Linked DNA regions of Homo sapiens: region 1 is linked to region 2. Evidence: fine-mapped QTL for protein levels in blood plasma. A gene starts in region 2. The other region holds a variant in brackets. All regions are shown on one strand. Distances are from middle to middle. Region 1 overlaps DDI2 (DDI proteasomal shuttling factor 2). Region 2 holds the start of DDI2 (DDI proteasomal shuttling factor 2).

Evidence for each region. A credible set is the group of variants that fine-mapping cannot tell apart. PIP is the posterior inclusion probability: the model's chance that the variant is causal. The UK Biobank Pharma Proteomics Project read protein levels with antibody pairs (Olink). The fine-mapping took linkage between variants from a reference panel, not from the people measured, so its PIPs are less certain.
Region 1: its variant is the best candidate, but not a certain one, in a credible set for the plasma level of the DDI2 protein (UK Biobank, PIP 0.74).

The regions. Positions count from the first base shown.
Region 1 is chr1:15,662,783-15,671,841 of GRCh38, forward strand. DDI2 (DDI proteasomal shuttling factor 2) reads left to right here. Exons shown (of 10, transcript NM_032341.5): 10 at 1-6,262. Among named protein-coding and RNA genes, the nearest start is that of RSC1A1, 7.6 kb to the left of the region's middle. RefSeq lists a silencer at 5,439-5,639. The variant G/A (reference allele first, on the strand shown) is at 4,974.
Region 2 is chr1:15,611,800-15,620,858 of GRCh38, forward strand. DDI2 (DDI proteasomal shuttling factor 2) reads left to right here and starts at 5,659. Exons shown (of 10, transcript NM_032341.5): 1 at 5,659-6,009. The coding sequence starts at 5,872. It also overlaps the pseudogene CD24P1. RefSeq lists a silencer at 5,413-5,982.

The DNA.
Region 1 (9,059 bases), 51 kb after region 2:
TCTATTTGGAGAGTGTCCTTTGTGGCAGTGGAAATAGTAATTACAGTTTCTGACTTAAGTGGCCTTGGTAGAGTTTTCCATCCTTTTCTTTCCTCAGGAGTTTCTTTTTTAAGCAAAATTCATCTTATTTGTGTTTACCATGTCAAGTTAGAGTGGGGCATAATATATAGATGTATTTATTGTGGCCTTTTTTTATATAAGGACTAGCCCTTGGAAATCATTGTCCTGTGGGCCCCACTGTGCAATAATCCTACTGGATAGGTTTTAGATAATTCTTTCCTGGCAAACTGCTCTTTTGGGTACCTAGCAGGAATCTGAAGTCTTGGTTTTATTGAAAAGAATTTTGAGATTCATAATTTCTGATTCTAGATTATAGTTTGTAACATGTTTGAAACAGAAGCTTCGAAAGAGTGATTTCTCAACTTAGTGTTAAATGATTTTGTCTGAAGTCTGACTCTTTGTAAGCTTGTTTGTTTCATCAAATTTTAAGTCATTGAGCACAATCAAAATGGAGGCTCATATCTCAGGAGTTTTTGAAATTTTAATTTAGGGGCACTTAGAGACATTTTTTTCTACCCCATCCAACTTCTTTCTTTCCTTTTGCTATGATGTTTGTATGTATGTTATAAGACTTTAGTGATGGGATGGCGTGTCACGTAGATTCATCATGATCCTTTATGTAGTTAGGAAATGGTTGACAGAAGGAATTGTAGTTTACTGCTTTTCAGAGGGCGTGAAGAACAACAGGTCAGCCAGGTTGTCTTTAAGATGTTCTTTTAGACAGCTGCACATTGTAGACCCTTTCACCTGCCCTACACCAAAGATGTACGATGCACTAGGAAACTGCTCATAGGATTTCTGTCAGCTGACTTAAAGCTGTGATTGTAATTAAATAGTTGGTGCTATGATTGATGCAAAATCTAGTAGCAATGCAATGGGACCCTGTATTTGCTTTATGGGTGGTGGTTTGGGAATGTATTCTAAGCTTATAAATCTTTGGAACCACGGGGTGGGAAGGGTGGGGGAACTTACTGATGACAATAGACTCCCTCCTAAAGGGCCTTCCATGTAAGCAGAACGAACCTTGGCACACAATTCAGTGTGGATATTTGGGAAACAGTTCCAAGTGGAATATATAATATCAGTCGGGAAAAGATTTCATTAGGATAGCTTTTTGTGTATGTATATGTATATTTATTTTTAGGAATAGATCTATAGTTGTACATGAATTCCTGTTAGGAATACTCTGAATGAGCTTAACCCACTTGCCAAATATCCTTGTCCCTTCCATCATTTTATTTTTGAGATGGGGTCTTGCAGTGTTGCCCAGGCTGGACTCAAACTCTGGGGCTTAATCATCCTTCTGAGTAGCTGGGACTACATAAAGGCCAAAGTATAATTGCTTTTGATTTTTAAAATCTTCTTGCCCATCATTTTTATAAAAATAAAGCTGTTTGTCCAACACGGTGAAACCTCATCTCTACTAAAAATACAAAAAATTAGCTGGGCATGGTGGCACACGCCTGTAATCCCAGCTACTTGGGAGACTGAGGCAGGAGAATTGCTTGAACCTGGGAGATGGGGGTTGCAGTGAGCCTAGATCACGCCACTGCACTCCAGTGTGGGCGGCAGAGTGAGACTCTGTCTCACCCAAAAAAAAAAAAAAAAAGCTATTGACACTGTTAATATTTTGGATGACTTAAATTTAGCAGCTCTAGAATGCAAAGGGTATATTAAGGAGCATTACAATAGTGAACCTTCATCGTCAGCTTTTATTCAATTAAGAGCTCCAGAAATGCAGAAATTATGGGTTAACTTCTAAGAATACCATCAAATCCCTGTGAATTCTGGTTGCCAACAGTAATAACCAGTAATGGGCACCTTTACCGGACAGCTCCTTTACCATAACCAGTAGTGGGCAGTTCTGCGGTCAGCACTTAACTACAAGGGCGGTCTCTGTTTCTTCACCAGAGAGAGAAGATTTTCCTGTGTAATTTGTGCCATTTCCCTGAAGTTGGTTCTTGAGCGGAAAGATGTGCTTGGTAACCAGACAGCAGCTTTACATAGGTTATAGATTTTGCTCATTGATGCTGTTAAGAATTATTTCCACTCATACCTGTTCAGGGCTCCAGACAGCCAATAGCCTTCATCCCACAGTTTGGGCTTCAGCTATTAACACATAAAGATAACCAGTTGCAGCTAGGCTCGGTGGCTCACACCTGTAATCCCAGCACTTTGGGAGGCCAAGGCGGGTGGATCACCTGAGGGCAGGAGTTTGAGACAGGCCTGGCCAACATGGTGAAACTCCATCTCTACTAAAAATACAAAAATTAGCCGGGTGTGGTGGCCCATGCCTGTAATTCCAGCTACTCGGGAGGCTGAGGCAGGAGAATCACTTAAACCTGGGAGGCGGAGGTTGTGGTGAGCAGAGATCACGCCATTGCACTCCAGCCTGGGCAACAAGAGCAAAACTCTGTCTCAAAAAAAAAAAAAAAAAAGGTAACCAGTTGCTTGGCAAAGGAAGCTGGAGAGATGGCGAGTGCATGTGTTAAAACTCTTCTGCCTTGCAGCCCACATCTTCTAGAGCTCCCTGTCTTCATATGTACTAAAGGGAGACACAACCCTATGTGTTTTTTCCCAAAGCATGTCTCTAGCAAGAGGGTACATAGAAATGGAACATGAGGCTTTTTGTCACTGATTTTATGATAACCAGTTAATGTGGAATCTGCTGGTTGTCTTACTACAGCTTTCTATCTCCGGTGAAAGCCATAAAAATTTAGGTTAACTTTTAAGCTCATGTCTATATATATGTGTGTAAGCTAGCATATACATATGGTGATTGACAAGTATAGTTAATTTTATATGGATTTAAAAGCAAGCAATTTTTATATCTACAGACGTACTCTTCACTTATGGTGGCTTTTATCCCGCCACATATATAAATATATATATATATAGCAAACAGCCTTGCAAATCATCGGCCAGAAAAGCTGCAGGGCGTTGCAATGGCCTTTTCCTACCTGTTTGCCACCTGTGGTGAGGGTGAGCAGGATGATTGAACTGCTGCATATTTCAAACCTGTTATCACTGGCAGTGTGTCCCAAGAGAAGCTGACCAGATTATGCATTCTACTGTTCTCTAGCACAAGTACTCACCAAAAAGCCAAATTTCCCCTTTGGAGTTGGTGACTTAGTGTAGTCTGTGGCTGACCTAGAAAGACACAGAGTTATCAAGAGTTTCCCTTCCTAGAAGATGAATGTTACCTTTTGTGTTAGGAGGTAGAGAAAATAAAAATAGCTTTTTTTTCCCTAGAATTGCTAATTACTCTTAACAACAAATTAAATTCAAAGCCTGTCCTTGAGAACTGGAAATGTAAAATCATGGTTCAAGTTTTATACCTTAGTGATTCCTCAGTAGGTGTTACTAGGAGTTCACTGAATGAACTTAGGAGTGAACCTTCGATGTGCTTGATTTTCTTTTGTGCCTTAGTTTCTCTGAATAGCAGAGGCATCAAATTTTGGTGGGGAATGAGAGGAGTATTAGGGGAAAGTTTGAAAATAGCTCTCCTGGAGATGGAGGGCACACAGAGTGGTCCTCAGGCTCACCTTGACTGAGTTGATTCACAGTTATCCTGCATCAGACCATTAGATTTCTTTAGTGCTATGATTATAATAGGGATTTTTGAATCACCAAAAACAGTTTTTAGATGTTTATGTTCTTTGTTTTACTATCAATGTTGTGCTGGTTAAGGGAGAGAAAAGTTCAAGAAGATCTTACATATTTGAAAGGAAATTGGTACTCTTGAAGGCTATGCAACATGAGTCTTTGAACAAGAATTCCTTGCTACTTTGATTCATTCATCAAATACTGAGTGCCTGTGTGCCAGGCACAGGTGAACTCTGGGGATTCAGGGGTAACTAAAACAGATTGGAACCCTGCCCTTGTGAAGCTTTCAGTCTAGAAGGGAGACGTGAAACAAATTTTAGCTTCAAAAGCAACATCTATTTTTGCCTGTTAGCATGCATTTATTTTAAAAGTCATATTAGAGTTACCTGGTTCCACTTCAGAGCAGACTGGGAAAATCAGGCTTACAATGGAATCAGATGCTGTGGGCCTAAAACAGCTCTTTAAAAATCTATTTTTTTAGGCCAGGTGCGTTGGCTCACACCTGTAATCCCAGCACTTTGGGAGGCCAAGGTGGGTGGATATGAGGTCAGGAGGTCGAGACCAGCCTGGCCAATATGATGAAACCTTACCTCTACTAAAAATAAAAAATTAGCCGGGCATGGTGGCACATGCCTGTAGTCCCAGCTACTCGGGAAACTGAGGCAGAAGAATCGCTTGAACCCGGGAGGCGGAGGTTGCAGTGAGCCGGGATCACGTCACTGTACTCCAGCCTGGGCAAGAGTGAGACACCGTCTCAAAAAAAAAAAAAATTTTTTTTTAAATGGAATCAGAGAAACCAACAAAATATGTAACATGTATAAATGCCTGAGGAGATCAGTTATTGAGAAATCCATTTACAATGCTGGAGGAGAGGGGATGGCCAGGAAAGAAGTGCAACAAATAAATGGAAGATGACCCTAAAAATGCACCAGTGACAGTCAGTCAATCCATCAGACCACCTCACATGCAGGGTAGAAACATGGAGTGTGCGGCAGCATCCTCCTCACATCCCTTTGTGAGCACGGCTGCTCCGGAATACTGACCATCTGGGCTAGCACGACTTAGCAGAGGGTTCTGCAGGATGTGCTATTTTAAAGCAGCTGGGTGCAACTTGTGAAAACGGGAATCTAGAGCAGAACATGTAATCAGCGATGGCTGGGATTGGTGGACAGGATTGACAGGAGTATTTGAGGCTCTACCAGGCCTGTCTACAGGACAGCTTCATCAAAGGGACATTTTTTAACCTGTTATTTTAAATGCCACATATATGTTGTAATGCTGAAGCATACAGGTAGAATTTCTGGATC[G/A]TAACTACTAGTGACTTCTGAGGTTTACAGTTAGAAAATGTTCTCAAAGGTTTATCAGTTATGTATTGATGATTGGTAATCTAGACCCTCTGGAGGCTGTAGAATGTGAAAAGATACAGCTGAGCTGACAAGTTTTAGGGCACTATCTTCTGGAATGAAATCGGCCAAGAAAATGGTTCAAGGGCATGGGGGTTAGAGAATGTTTCTTTTACCTAAAAATGTTAAGCCAACTATGGAAGATTGGGGTCGTGGGGGCATGAAATACAAAATTATGATAATTTATACAGAACTAGGTTTCTTTATGTTCTGCAAGAAGGTTTTTATTAGCTAATTTGGGGAGGGGGGCATGCTGCAGTATTTTTTTTCCTGGGAACATGCATTTCTGATGGGAAGTTATTTTGTTTACAAGAGTTGGTTTTACACACAACCCTGAATGAATGTGTCTATGGCCTAAAAATGGTAGACCTGTATTTCCTTCCCGAGGCAGGCTGATTCGTTTCCTGATTCCTTCTGTCTGAGATTACCTGATGCTGACCAGACTTATTTTTCCTTTCCTGAATCTTCACAGCTGAGTTTATGGCACCCATCCAAGACCTTCCCATTTGAATGACTAGATTTCTATTCTATCCCCGATCATCCTTTTGAAATAGTTCTAGTGATAAACTCAGAGAAATTCAATATATTGATTGAATTTTATTTTTTCGCTTTGTATCTACAACAGAAATTGATTTGTTCATTTTTATTTCAAATCTCTTCATGGCAAGTTGGGCTAATGGACTTTGCACTCAAGAAAGGTTTGTTTACCAGTTTTGTAGCCATGTTTGGCAAATCTTAGCAACTAGAAACCCCGTCCTTTCTTTTCCTTCTTTATATGTTCTTGCAGTTACTCTTGTATTGCAAGATTTTCTGACTTTAAGCTTTGAGACTACTGCATCTTAAAAGAAGAACTAGGCTGACTGGCAAAAAGTCTTGCCAGTGGCCCTGTCACTCCCATGATGCTTTGGTTTTGAGAGTTGGGAAAACTCTGAGAACTTAAGGGAACCAAACTCAGGAATCCCAAAATTGGTGGCATTGTGCCATTCGTTTAGGGGCTGAACATAGGACCTGTCTGAAACTGAGTGAGCTAGATGCATTTGGGTTTGAATTTTTGTCACATACTGAAATGTAAGTCAGCCCTAAATAATCAAAACACTTTATTTTATTTTTCTTTTTTTAAATAGGAACTTTCTGAAGAAAAAGTGGTGTGTAAAACATTTGATATTTAAGACAATAAAGTTTTTATCATAAGACTTCTGTTTGATCAATTTCTTTTAAATTGAGGTGGTTACTTCAGTTAGACAAGGTGGTGTCCTTGTCTCTATCTCCCTACTCCTTTAAATAGCTTATACCCAGACATTGTAATTTATGGCGTGTACCTGAACCCCAGAAGAAGTGGGCCTCTCAAAGCCATTAACTTCCAGATTAGTACTGCGGGAGGACAGCTCCCTGCTGATGTAAAAGATGCGCATTTTGGGCCAGGCACGATGGCTCACACCTGTATTCCCAGCACTTTGGGAGGCCGAGATGGGCGGATTACTTCAAGACCAGCCTGGCCACCACGGCGAAACTCCCATCTCTACTAAAAATGAAAAAGCTGGGCGTGGTGGCATGCACCTGTGGTCCCCACTACTCAGGAGGCTGAGGTGAGAGGATTGTTTGAGTCCAGGAAGCGGAGGTTGCATTGAGCTGAGATGCCACTGCACTCCAGCCTGGGCAACAGCAAGACCCTGTCTCAATTATAATAATAGCAATGGAGTATGGTGGCCAAGACTAGATTCTAGAGCTAGGCTGATTGGGTTTGAGCTTTGCCACTTACTGGTTTATATGACTGGGTAAGTTACCTAACCTTTCTGTGCTTGAGTTTCCTCACCTGTTAAATGGGGACCATCAGAGAGATTATGGGGCTTAAATGAGTTAATCATATGAAGTGCTTAGAATACCTGGCACAAAGTAAGTGCTCATGAGATGTGAGCTGGTATTCATTATGTCACTCAAGGGATTTGAGGATGCTACATGGAATTTCCAGAAGTCAAGTGCTTTGTCTAACAGACTGATGTGGGGGAAGGGCTTTGCCCCATGTAGGTTCCAGGCTACCAGGATTCTGTCTTTTTCAACATGTGGGTTCCAAGATTGCCTTGGACGTCAGCATCCAGCTGGCACACCAGGGAAAGGGGTGTTATGTACCAGGCCTGGAAGTGGTGTGCATGACTTTTCTGCCCACATTCACTGGCTGGAACTCAGTCACATGACCATGCCAGAAGCAAGCGGGGCTGTGAAATAGATGTTCAGGCTGATGAGGGGTACAGCTAGTTGGTTGGCTAAGCAGTCCTCCAATGTTGACTTACACAGACAGAGACAACACATACCTTTTCACCAAAGGAGATGGCCCCAAATCCCACCCCAGGCAATCCATTGACCTCAACGTCCAGAGTTCCCTGATGCCACGTCTTTCAGGTCTTGATTGTGGCCCCTTAAGGTCTGGCAAACTCTGAACTTGGAAATGTTATCTGTTTCTACCCGATAGACAGTGATAGAGCTGGGATAGAATAACTGTAGTAGCAGATCTCAATTGGAAAAGGAAATGGGAAATGGAGGTGTCACTGGCCCCAACAATTAGAAAATCATGCTGAACAGGCTGAGTGTGGTGGCTCACGCCTATAATTCCAGCACTTTGGGAGGCCGAGATGGACGTATCATGAGGTCAGGAGATAAGACCATCCTGGCCAACATGGCAAAACCCCGTCTCTACTAAAAATACAAAAACTAGCTGGGCATGGTGGAGCGTGCCTGTAATTCCAGCTACTTGGGAGGCTGAGGCAGAATTGCTTGAACCCGGGAGTCAGAGGTTGCAGTGAGCCGAGATTGTGCCACTGCACTCCAGCCTGGTGACAGAGTGAGACTCCATCTCAAAAACAAAAACAAAAAAAAATCGTGCTGAACAGACATTGTGAAGAAGTTTATTAAAAATTCTGATTGCCTAGTTTGAAGGAAGTCCCTTGTCCATTGTCCATAGCCCCACCTGAATTGAGTCTGCTCTTGGGAGTTGGCGTGGCCTTCTTAGCTAGCTTACTGCTTGGTGCAAGCCTGGGGATCCGAGGGTTGTCTAAAGCCTTGGAAAAGAGTCAGTGGCTTTTAAAACCTGAGTGTGTGGTTAATTTGGGAAAACAATTTACTTGGTAGACTTCTGATTATTCACTTGCAGCCATTTCTGCATGCCAGTAACCACACTAGCAATTCTTGCCTCTACACAGTTTTCAGGTCTGATTAATTTTGCTTCTCACTTCTAGTTCGTTCTCAGTGACACCTGCCTTGACTTCATCTGAAGTATATTTGAATGGGAAAACCCGAATAGATGATTTTTGCTGCAGGCCTGAGTCTTACTGGGCCTTAGTATTCAAAGCCTGTTTCAAACTTAGCTCTTATCTGGGATCTAAAAGGAAATTTTTTTTTTTTTTTTGAGACGGAGTCTTGCTCTGTCACCCAGGCTGGAGTGCAGTGACATGATCTTGGCTCGCTGCAACCTCAGTCTCCCGAGTTCAAGCGATTCTCCTGCCTCAGCCTCCCAAGCAGCTAGGACTACAGGCACGCGCCACCACACCCAACTAATTTTCGTATTTTTAGTAGAGACAAGGTTTCACCATATTGGCCAGGCTGGTCTCGAACTCCTGACCTCATGATCCACCCGCCTCAGCCTCCCAAAGTGCTGGTATTACAGGCATGAGCCACCACACCCAGCCTATCCTAAAGCTTTCTAAATGATGTGTCTGTGCTTTAAGTGATTAAAAATTAACCATTTTCAGACTCTTAGAGATACCCTAGGGTGTTAACCAGTGTAGAGTCATTACTTTGTGTATAGATTTGTGCCATGGGGCCTTTATTTGAGAGGATTTCTATGTACACAGACAAGGTAGTTTAAACAGGGAGTAGCTTAGACAAATCTCACCTTGTTCTGCTATTCTCACCTGTCTAAAAAGAATTATGAGAACAAAGGCTATTACTAGTTGGAGGTAAGAAATAATTATTCTGTCATTCAGATCTCAATCTTTT
Region 2 (9,059 bases):
CCGCACCCAGCCCCTTAATGAATCTGGTGTCCTTGTTGAACGAAAATAGGTGAAATGAAATGCCTACCATTTGACTCTCTAAGGATAAACAAGAGTTATTGATGATGCTTGGACTTGGGGGTAGATTGCAGTCTATCATTGCCCTGGCACATGTCAATTACTAAATAAAAGGTCAAATGCAATGTCAAATCCAAATCCTCAGAGGAAAAAGAATTCAGTTACCAAAAGAACAGTGATAGCCTAACAATGTAAAACTTAATATATTGGCATTAAATTAGTACTGCTGAAATAATACATTGAGGATTTATAGAATGATGGAAGCTTTTTTTTTTTTTTTTGAGACGGAGTCTCACTCTGTCTTCCAGGCTGGAGTGCAGTGGTGCGGTCTCAGCTCACTGCAGCCTCCACCCTCCGAGTTCACACGATTCTCCTGCCTCAGCCTCCCGAGTAGCTGTAATTACAGACACTTGCCACCGTGCCCAGCTAATTTTTTGTATTTTTAGTAGAGATGGGGTTTCACCATCTTGGCCAGGCTGGTCTTGAACTCCTGACCTTGTGATCCACCCGCCTTGGTCTCCCAAAGTGCTGGGATTACAGGTGTGAGCCACTGCACCCAGCCGATGGAAGCTTTTTTAAACTTTAAGACAGGATCTTGCTCTGTCACCCAGGCTGGAGTGCCATGATAATGGCTTACTGCAGCCTTGACCTCCAGGGCTGAAGTGATCATCCTACCTCAGTCTCTTGGGTAGCTGTGACCACAAGTGTGTGACACCATGCCCACCTCTTTTTTTAAATTTGTGGGCCAGACACGGTGGCTCACACCTGTAATCCCAGCACTTTGGGAGGACGAGAGAGCTGGATCGCCTGAGGTCAGGAGTTTGAGACCAGCCTGGCCAACATGGTGAAACCCCATCTCTACTAAAAATACAAATATTAGCTGGGCATGGTGGCATGCTCCTGTAGTCCCAGCTACTCAGGAGGCTAAAGAAGGAGAATGGCTTGAACCCGGGAGGTGGAGATTGCAGTGAGCTGGGATCGTGCCATGGCACTCCAGCCTGGGGGACAAGAGTGAAACGCTGCCTCAAAAAAAAAAAAGGAGATTATGGCCAGGTGCAGTGGCTCATGCCCGTAATCCCAGCACTTTGGGGGGCCCAGTGGGTAGATCACCTGAGGTCAGGAGTTTGCGACCCGCCTGGCCTACATGGTGAAACCCTGTCTCCACTAAAAATACAAAAATTAGCCAGGTATGGTGGTGGGTGCCTGTAATCCCAGCTACTCAGGAGGCTGAGGCACAAGAATCACTTGAACCTGCGAGGCAGAGGTTGCAGTGAGCTGAGATCGCACCACTGCACTCCAGCCTGGATGGCAGAGCGAGACTGTGTCTCAGAAAGGAAAAACAAAAAATAAAAATTAGCGGGGCATGGTGGTGCAGGCCTGTAATCCCAGCAACTTGGGAGGCTCAGGCAGGAGAATCACGAGCCAGGGAAGTGGAGGTTGCAGTGAGCTGAGCTCGCACCACTGCACTCCAGCCTGGGCAACAGAACAAGACTCCATCTCAATAAATAAATAAATTAATTAAATTAAAATAAATTTTTTTTTGTAGAGATGGGGTCTCACCCTGTTGCCCAGGGTGATTTCAAACTCCTGGGCTCAATCGATCCTCCTGCTGTGGCCTCCCAAAGTGCTAGGATTACAGGTATGAGCCACCCCCACCCCTGCCAATGGAAATCTTTTATTTTACTGGTTTTACTGCCGTATAGACTTAATGAACCAAATGAAAACTGAATCTCCACTCCATATTACATCTTTATTTCTAAACAAGATAAAATCTATTATTTATTATTATTTTTTTTTTATTACCCAAGTTTTGTCTCAGGATCTACTATTCTTATTTTCAAGGTAGTTTTAACTGTCCACATTTCTTAAGCCACATTCAAGAAATAATGTCTTCAATTTTGGATGTTGCCTCTCTTCATCTTGTACATGACATTTAAGCAGATTTAATATTGGCATCCATCATCTAGTCAAACCCTTCACGTGTTCTTCAAAGCAATTAAATTTGGGGTTCTCAACCTTTTCTTTCTTTCTTTCCTTTTTTTTTTTTTTTGAGATGGAGTCTCACTCTGTCGCCCAGGCTGGAGTGCAATGGCGCGATCTCGGCTCACTGCACCCTCTGCCTCCCATGTTCAAGCCATTCTCCTGCCTCAGCCTCCTGAGTAGCTGGGATTACAGGCACACACCACCACGTCTGGCTAATTTTTATATTTTTAGTAGAGACGGGGTTTCACCATGTTGGTCAGGCTGGTCTTGAACTCCTGACCTTGTGATCCACCTGCCACCTGCCTCGGCCTCCCAAAGTGCTGGGATTACAGATGTGAGCTACCGCGCCTGGCCTTTTTTTTTTTTTTTTTTTTTTTTGAGACAGAGTTTTGCTCTTGTTGCCCAGGCTGGAGTGCAATGGCGCAATCTCGGCTCACTGCAACCTCTGCCTCCCAGGTTCAACCAATTCTCCTGCCTCAGCCTCCCAAGTAGCTGGGATTACAGGCATCCACCACCATATCTGGGTAATTTTTCTGTACTTTTAGTAGAGACGGGGTTTCACCATGTTGGCCAGGCTGGTCTCAAACTCCTGACCTCAGGTGATCCACCTGCCTCGACCTCTCAATGTGTTGGGATTACAGGCATGAGCCACCACACCTGGCCAGGTTCTCAACCTTTTCTGTATCAGTAAAAGAAGGTGTGAAATTAATAGATTTGATGAAGACCCGCTTTTTTTCTTGCCACATTGGACTCCTAGATGCCATTTGGAATGGGTTTAGAAGACACGGAAGTATAGATGTTTCTTAACAGTAGAAATATAGAAGAGAAAGCAAGACCATGAGGAGACTGGCAGTTGACTGCAGGGCACAGCCAACTGCCTTGGTGGTGGCATTAGCTGGGTTTGGGGCAGACAAGGTACCCTGGGAGGAGTTACTTGAAAACGTTACAATAGTTTGATTTGAATAAATCTGCATAAGTAGGAGCAGTGCCAGAAGCAGCAGCCCCAGCCTGAGCCTGTCCACCATTGCTTTGTCCCCTCCATTGGTGTCTGGCATATATTGCTGGATGCTGGGTGAGAACTGCTGGCTCCAGGTGGACACAGGCGAGACCTAGCCTTAAAAATCACACAAAGTGGCTGGGTGCGATGGCTCACATCTGTAATCCCAGTACTTCGTGAGGCCAAGGTGGGAGGATCACTTGAGGCCAGGATTTGGAGATTAGCCTGGTCAACATAGCAAGGACTCATCCCTATTTTTTTTAACTAAAAATAATGTAAAATCATAATAAAAAGGAAATCAAGCCTGGGCAACATAGCAAGATCTCATCTCTACTAAAAAGAAATTAGCTGCGTGTGGTGGTGCACACCTGTAGTTCCAGCTGCTGGGGAGGTTGAGCTGGAGGGATCACTTGAGCCCTGGAGGTTGAGGCTGCAGTGAGCCATGATCGTGCCACTGCACTCCAGCCTGGGTGACAGAGCCAGACCCTGTCTTGATAAAAAAAAAAAAAAAAAAGGAAATCACATAATGTCACTTATGCCAGAGTTAGTCTGCCGAGCCATGATTCAAAGGGAGGGACATTCACCCCACTTCTTAATGGGAGGGTTATCCAATCATGTTGTAGGAAGAGCATAGACGATGGGAGGCACTGTCATGGTCATCTTTGGAGAACAAAATCTGCCAGACCTGGGAACCTGAGCACCACTAGACCAAATATAACAATTAATCAATGATTCAAGCCTCAACTGATTCCTTGATACCACCACTGGGCAATCCTAGAACATTTCTCAGCTAAACTTGCTTCAATTTGCAATGGTTATTTCAAACATTCACTGTAGAAGGCACTGTGTACATCTTTCCTAATACCCATTCCCAGCCCCCCTTTTCCCTATTTATGTCCTTTAGGCAAAGCTAAATACTTGCGTTCCTAGCCTCTCTTGCATCTATGTGACACAATTCTGTCCAGTGAGATGTAAGCAAAAATGTGCACAGGGACTTCTGGGCAAGCTTTTTCCTTGAATAGGAAAATGATGCGTGCAGTGGAGGCAGCCAGCCATATATTGCAACCCTCAGGAAAAGGTCAAGACAATTACAAAAGTATTGGCCCTGATTTCAGTGAGCCACTCAACCAGTGCTGTTGCTACCTCCAGGCCTTCTCTCCTGTGAGAAAACAAACCCTTGTTTGTTTAAGCCACTGATAGTCAAGCTTTCTGTTGCTCCTAGGGGATATAAGCATTCTCACTCCCCTGTGCCTCTACTTTCTCTTTTTTTTTTTTTTTTTTGAGACAGAGTCTCGCTCTGTCTCCCAGGCTAGAGTGCAGTGACCTGATCTCGGCTCACTACAACCTCCGCCTCCCGCGTTCAAGTGACCCTCCTGCCTCAGCCTCCCGAGTAGCTGGGACTATAGGTGTCCGCCACCATGCCCGGCTAATTTTTGTATTTTTAGTAGAGACGGGGTTTCACCATATTGGCCAAGCTGGTCTCGAACTCCTGACCTTGTGATCCGCCCGCCTTGGCCTCCCAAAGTGCTGGGATTACAGGCGTGAGCCACCGCGCCCAGCTCCTCTAATTTCTCTTTGTAAAAGCCTTCAGCTGCTAATTCTCCCTTTCCTGCCACCAACAGCCTACTTACTACCTACTTACCTGCACCCACAGCCATCTTATTTGCTCCTTCTCTCCTGTTAAAATGGAAAAGGGCTCCCTACCATGGAGGGGGAGTGGGAGTAAATGGAAAGATGCTAATCTGGCATCCATTACAAGTTCATCTTTCAGTTTTGGTTTTCTTACTCATCCGCACCTTAGTTCTGGGCCTCTACCACTCATCAGCTGTGTGCCTTAAAAACAGGCCATTAAAGTAGCAAATATTTATTGAGTAGATTCTAAGCTGTGCCCAAAAAGGCACTGCGCTAGGTGGTAGGAGTTGCTAGGGCTAGGAAACAGACACAGTCCAAGTAGAGAGAAAATTATTTACAAGACAGGGGAATGGAGCCTTGGAGGAACTGACCTATGTGGCTGGGAGGGCAGAGAATGTGGGAAGAGCTCGGAAGAAGGGGCTGGGGAGGTAGGCGTGGGCCACAGCCAACTGGCTTCTGTAGACTAGGGAGGGTAATGATTTTGGTTTCAATCCTAAATCACTAAGACAGGAAGTGAATTACTCTGTCGGAGCCTCAATTTCTACCTCGAAAAATATGTTTTATTACTAACTCCTGTACTAGATTGAGAGTTACGGAGAAGGATTTATCCTTTTATTCATTTCTGCATCGCCAGCGCCCGACACATGGTAGGCGCTTAATCAATGCCTGTTCGGTGAATAAATAAGACCGGGGACTCCTCCACAGACTTCTGTCATTAAGTCAACCAGTCAGCAGAGATTTCCTTCTCCGCGTTCCTTTCCTTCCCTCCCCTTTTCTTGCCCTTCCTCCCTCTCCTCTTCCACGCCCCCTTCCCACTCCTCCCCCTCCTATCCTCTCCTGGCTTCCTCCTCCTCTTCCCGGCCCCGCCCCCCGCTGCGTTGCGAAGGCGGGGAAGGCGAGGCGGGCTTTACGGCAGCCGCGTTGCGGCGGGGCGGGGCGCCGGGCGGCCGGCGCGCTTGGCGGCAGCCGTGGGAGGCAGGCCGGCAGGCAGACGGACTCGCAGGCGTGTGGCGGCGGCCGTGCTTGCTAGTGAGGGCGGGAGGGAGTGACTCACTGAGCGTGTGTGAGGGAGGGAGCGAGCGAGCGAACGAGCAGCCGGCGCCGTCCTCCCGCAGCACCAGCCAGGCCACGCCGCCGCCTCTTCCCCTGCGCCCCGCGCCCAGGCCGGGCCGAGCCGAGCCGAGCCGGGTCGGGCCCGGGCCATGCTGCTCACCGTGTACTGTGTGCGGAGGGACCTCTCCGAGGTGACCTTTTCCCTCCAGGTCGACGCCGACTTCGAGCTGCACAACTTCCGCGCGCTGTGCGAGCTCGAGTCTGGCATCCCCGCAGCCGAGAGCCAGGTACGCCGGGCAGCGAGCCGGGCCTGCCCCGGAGCTAAGCCCTCCCCGCCTCGGGGCCTCACTCCCTCCCTTTGCTACTGGTGAAGAATTGGGGGCTGGGGGGAGCAAGGATAGCCATTCTCAGGTCACCCCCGCATCCGGAAAGGAGCTGGGGAGCTGGCATCAGTAGCTGCCCTCACACACTCCGAGCATGGGGTGGGGTACGAGGAGAGGGAGCGGAGAACCTGACCGCAGACGCACCCACTGCAGCGTGAGGGGCGCGTGGACTGTTGAGCAGCGCTAACCCTCCCCACCTTTGGCTCTTTGGCCCTTCCCTGTTTCTAATCCCGAGTGTAGGATATCGTTGTGGACCTCAGAAGCAGCCCTGGGTTTGCTAGGATTCATACATCCTGCAAACCAGAAATACCAGTTTGGATCACTGTGGTAGATAGATGTTCCTCTGCTTTTTTTTTTTTTTTTTTCTGGAGAGGGTTTCTGCTTAAATATACGCAGTTTACCTTTAAATGCACAGATTTGCACTTCCGGTGAAAGAAAAAGTTTAAGACTTGCACTACCTCATTTTGGGGTCTTTGGAAATGCTCTTTACCCACCACATGCGTTTCTGGTTAAATTCTTTTGAAAAACAGTACCTATTGGTTCAACTCAAGCTGTTTGTTTGTTTCGGTTCTACCCTGGTAGTAAGCCAGAAGGCCCTTTTTCTTTCAGGTCACAGTTCAGAGTTTGGGTCAGTTCAAAGCTCAATGCTTTAAAAGGATATTTGCTTGGAAACGGCCTAGTATCAGTGCTGTTTGGTGGTTTCATTTCCCTACTCAGCTTGCTGGAAAGAAGTTCAGCCTCTCATATTTTAACTAAGCAAAGTAATTCTCAAAATGCTTTGGGGCTGCCCCTAGTCTTTATCAAACAGAATCGGTGACACTAACGCTGTAAACTTTACACTAAAACACTTAGATCATGACTTAATAAATTTAGCCTGGAGGAAATAGTCTAAACATTAAGAAAATTATAGAGGTCTCCCAAGTCTCCATCAAGTAAATCTTGATTTTCTACTGCAGTTATGAAATAGTTTACAAAACGATTGCCCAACTGCAGCTTGTTCTGCTGTCTTATGGTAAACACGTGTCAATACTTTGTTCAGAAGTATGATTCCTTTACACAATGTGAACTTTAGAACCTTGGCATAAAGCTGTTCAGAAAGAATTTAAAAAGTTAATCCACAAAAGCTCAGGAACCAGTTCTGTCAGTGAATGCCTCATGTGGAGAACTAGGAAAGGACTGTTTAAATAGAGAAAATAAACTCTTCAATTTTTTTTCTTTTTTTGTTTTTGTTTTTGAGACGGAGTCTTGCTCTGTCGCCCATGCTGGAGTGCAGTGGTGCGTTCTCGACTCACTGCAACCCCAGTCTCCCGGGTTCAAGCGATTCTCCTGCCTCAGCCTCCTGAGTAACTGGGACTACGGGCGCGCGCCACCACGCCTGGCTAATTTTTGTAATTTTTTTTTAGTAGAGACGGGGTTTCACCATGTTGACCAGGCTGATTTCAAACTCCTGACCTCTAGTGATCTGCCCGCCTCGGCCTCCCAAAATGCTGCGATTACAGGTGTGAGCCACCGTTCCCGGACAACTCTTCAATTTTTGATAGTGGCTTTTTCTTTTCTTTTCTTTTCTTTTTTTTTTTTCGAGACGGAGTCTCTGTCGCCTAGGCTGGAGTGCAGTGGCGCGATCTCGGCTTACTGCAAGCTCCACCTCCCGGGTTCGTGCCATTCTCCTGCCTCAGCCTCCCGAGTAGCTGGGACTACAGGCGCCCACCACCGCGCCCGACTCATTTTTTGTATTTTTAGTAGAGAAGGGGTTTCACCATGTTAGCCAGGATGGTCTCGATCTCCTGACCTCGTGGTCTGCCCGCCTCGGCCTTCCAAAGTGCTGTGAGCCACCGCACCCGGCCCGATAGTGGCTTTTTCAATTGTTTTTTCCTCTAGCTGTTATATTACCCTGGTTATGATCACCGGCTGGTAGGGAAAATAAGAAATTAAAATGTAAATTGATTTTGTTGTTAGGGCTTGGGAAAAGACAGAGGTTGAGGTTGTTTCCATTCCTGCACTTTTTGTGATGGCTGAAACAAGAAATTTAAGTCAAAGGGATACCTGACACCCCCTTTAATTGACTTAAATTTCTTGTTACAGCCATCATAAAAGACGATTTATTGTGTGGTCAGCCAGACATTGCCCTCTGCCAGTTGGTAAAGTTAGGAATACCTTAGTAATTGAACATAGGCTAACTCCAAATTATTTCTTGTTCATTATGTCAATGTTTCGGCATTTACTTCCTTCCCAAGCCAAATTAGCATATAGAAACTTGGGCTCCAACTGGTGTTAAGCCTGTATTAGATAGCCATAAACAGCTCCTGTTTTTCCAGTCTGTTCTGTTGGCTCCATTGTAACCTGACAACACAGTATCTATTTTAAGGTGTCTGGTGGTCGGTTGTCTTTCACTTGCTTGCTTGCCCATCAGGCAGGAACAGGATCCACCCTAGACACTTGAGTCATTTCCTTTCATCAAATCATAATAGTAAACATCACTATAGTTTTTACCCATAAATATATCATGTTTACTTACTTGAGTGTCCCCCCCCATTACCTCCCAGGGTTCTCTCATATTACTCATCTTCCCTTCCTTTCCTAGACTGTTTAACTCCTCCTCTTGTTTACATTCTCCATTCCCATTCCTTCACCTCTCATTTCTGATTCCATTTCTTCAAGGAAATATATATATTTTTATGTTCTGGCTATTTTTTCCTGCCACTATGTGTCCACACCACTGGTGTCCAAACTTTCATTCATGTATCCCTATCAGTAAAATGTTTCAGATTATGCTTCTGTTATGTATATAATACATTATATACATGAACTGATACGTTGTATACATTATATATGGCCACATGTGCATATAATACACATAACGTGCATTATATGCATATATAATATGTTATCTGTAAAGTAACATTGTACACACACAAAATGGAGCTTAAGGAAGGACGAACTAAAATAAATGGAAA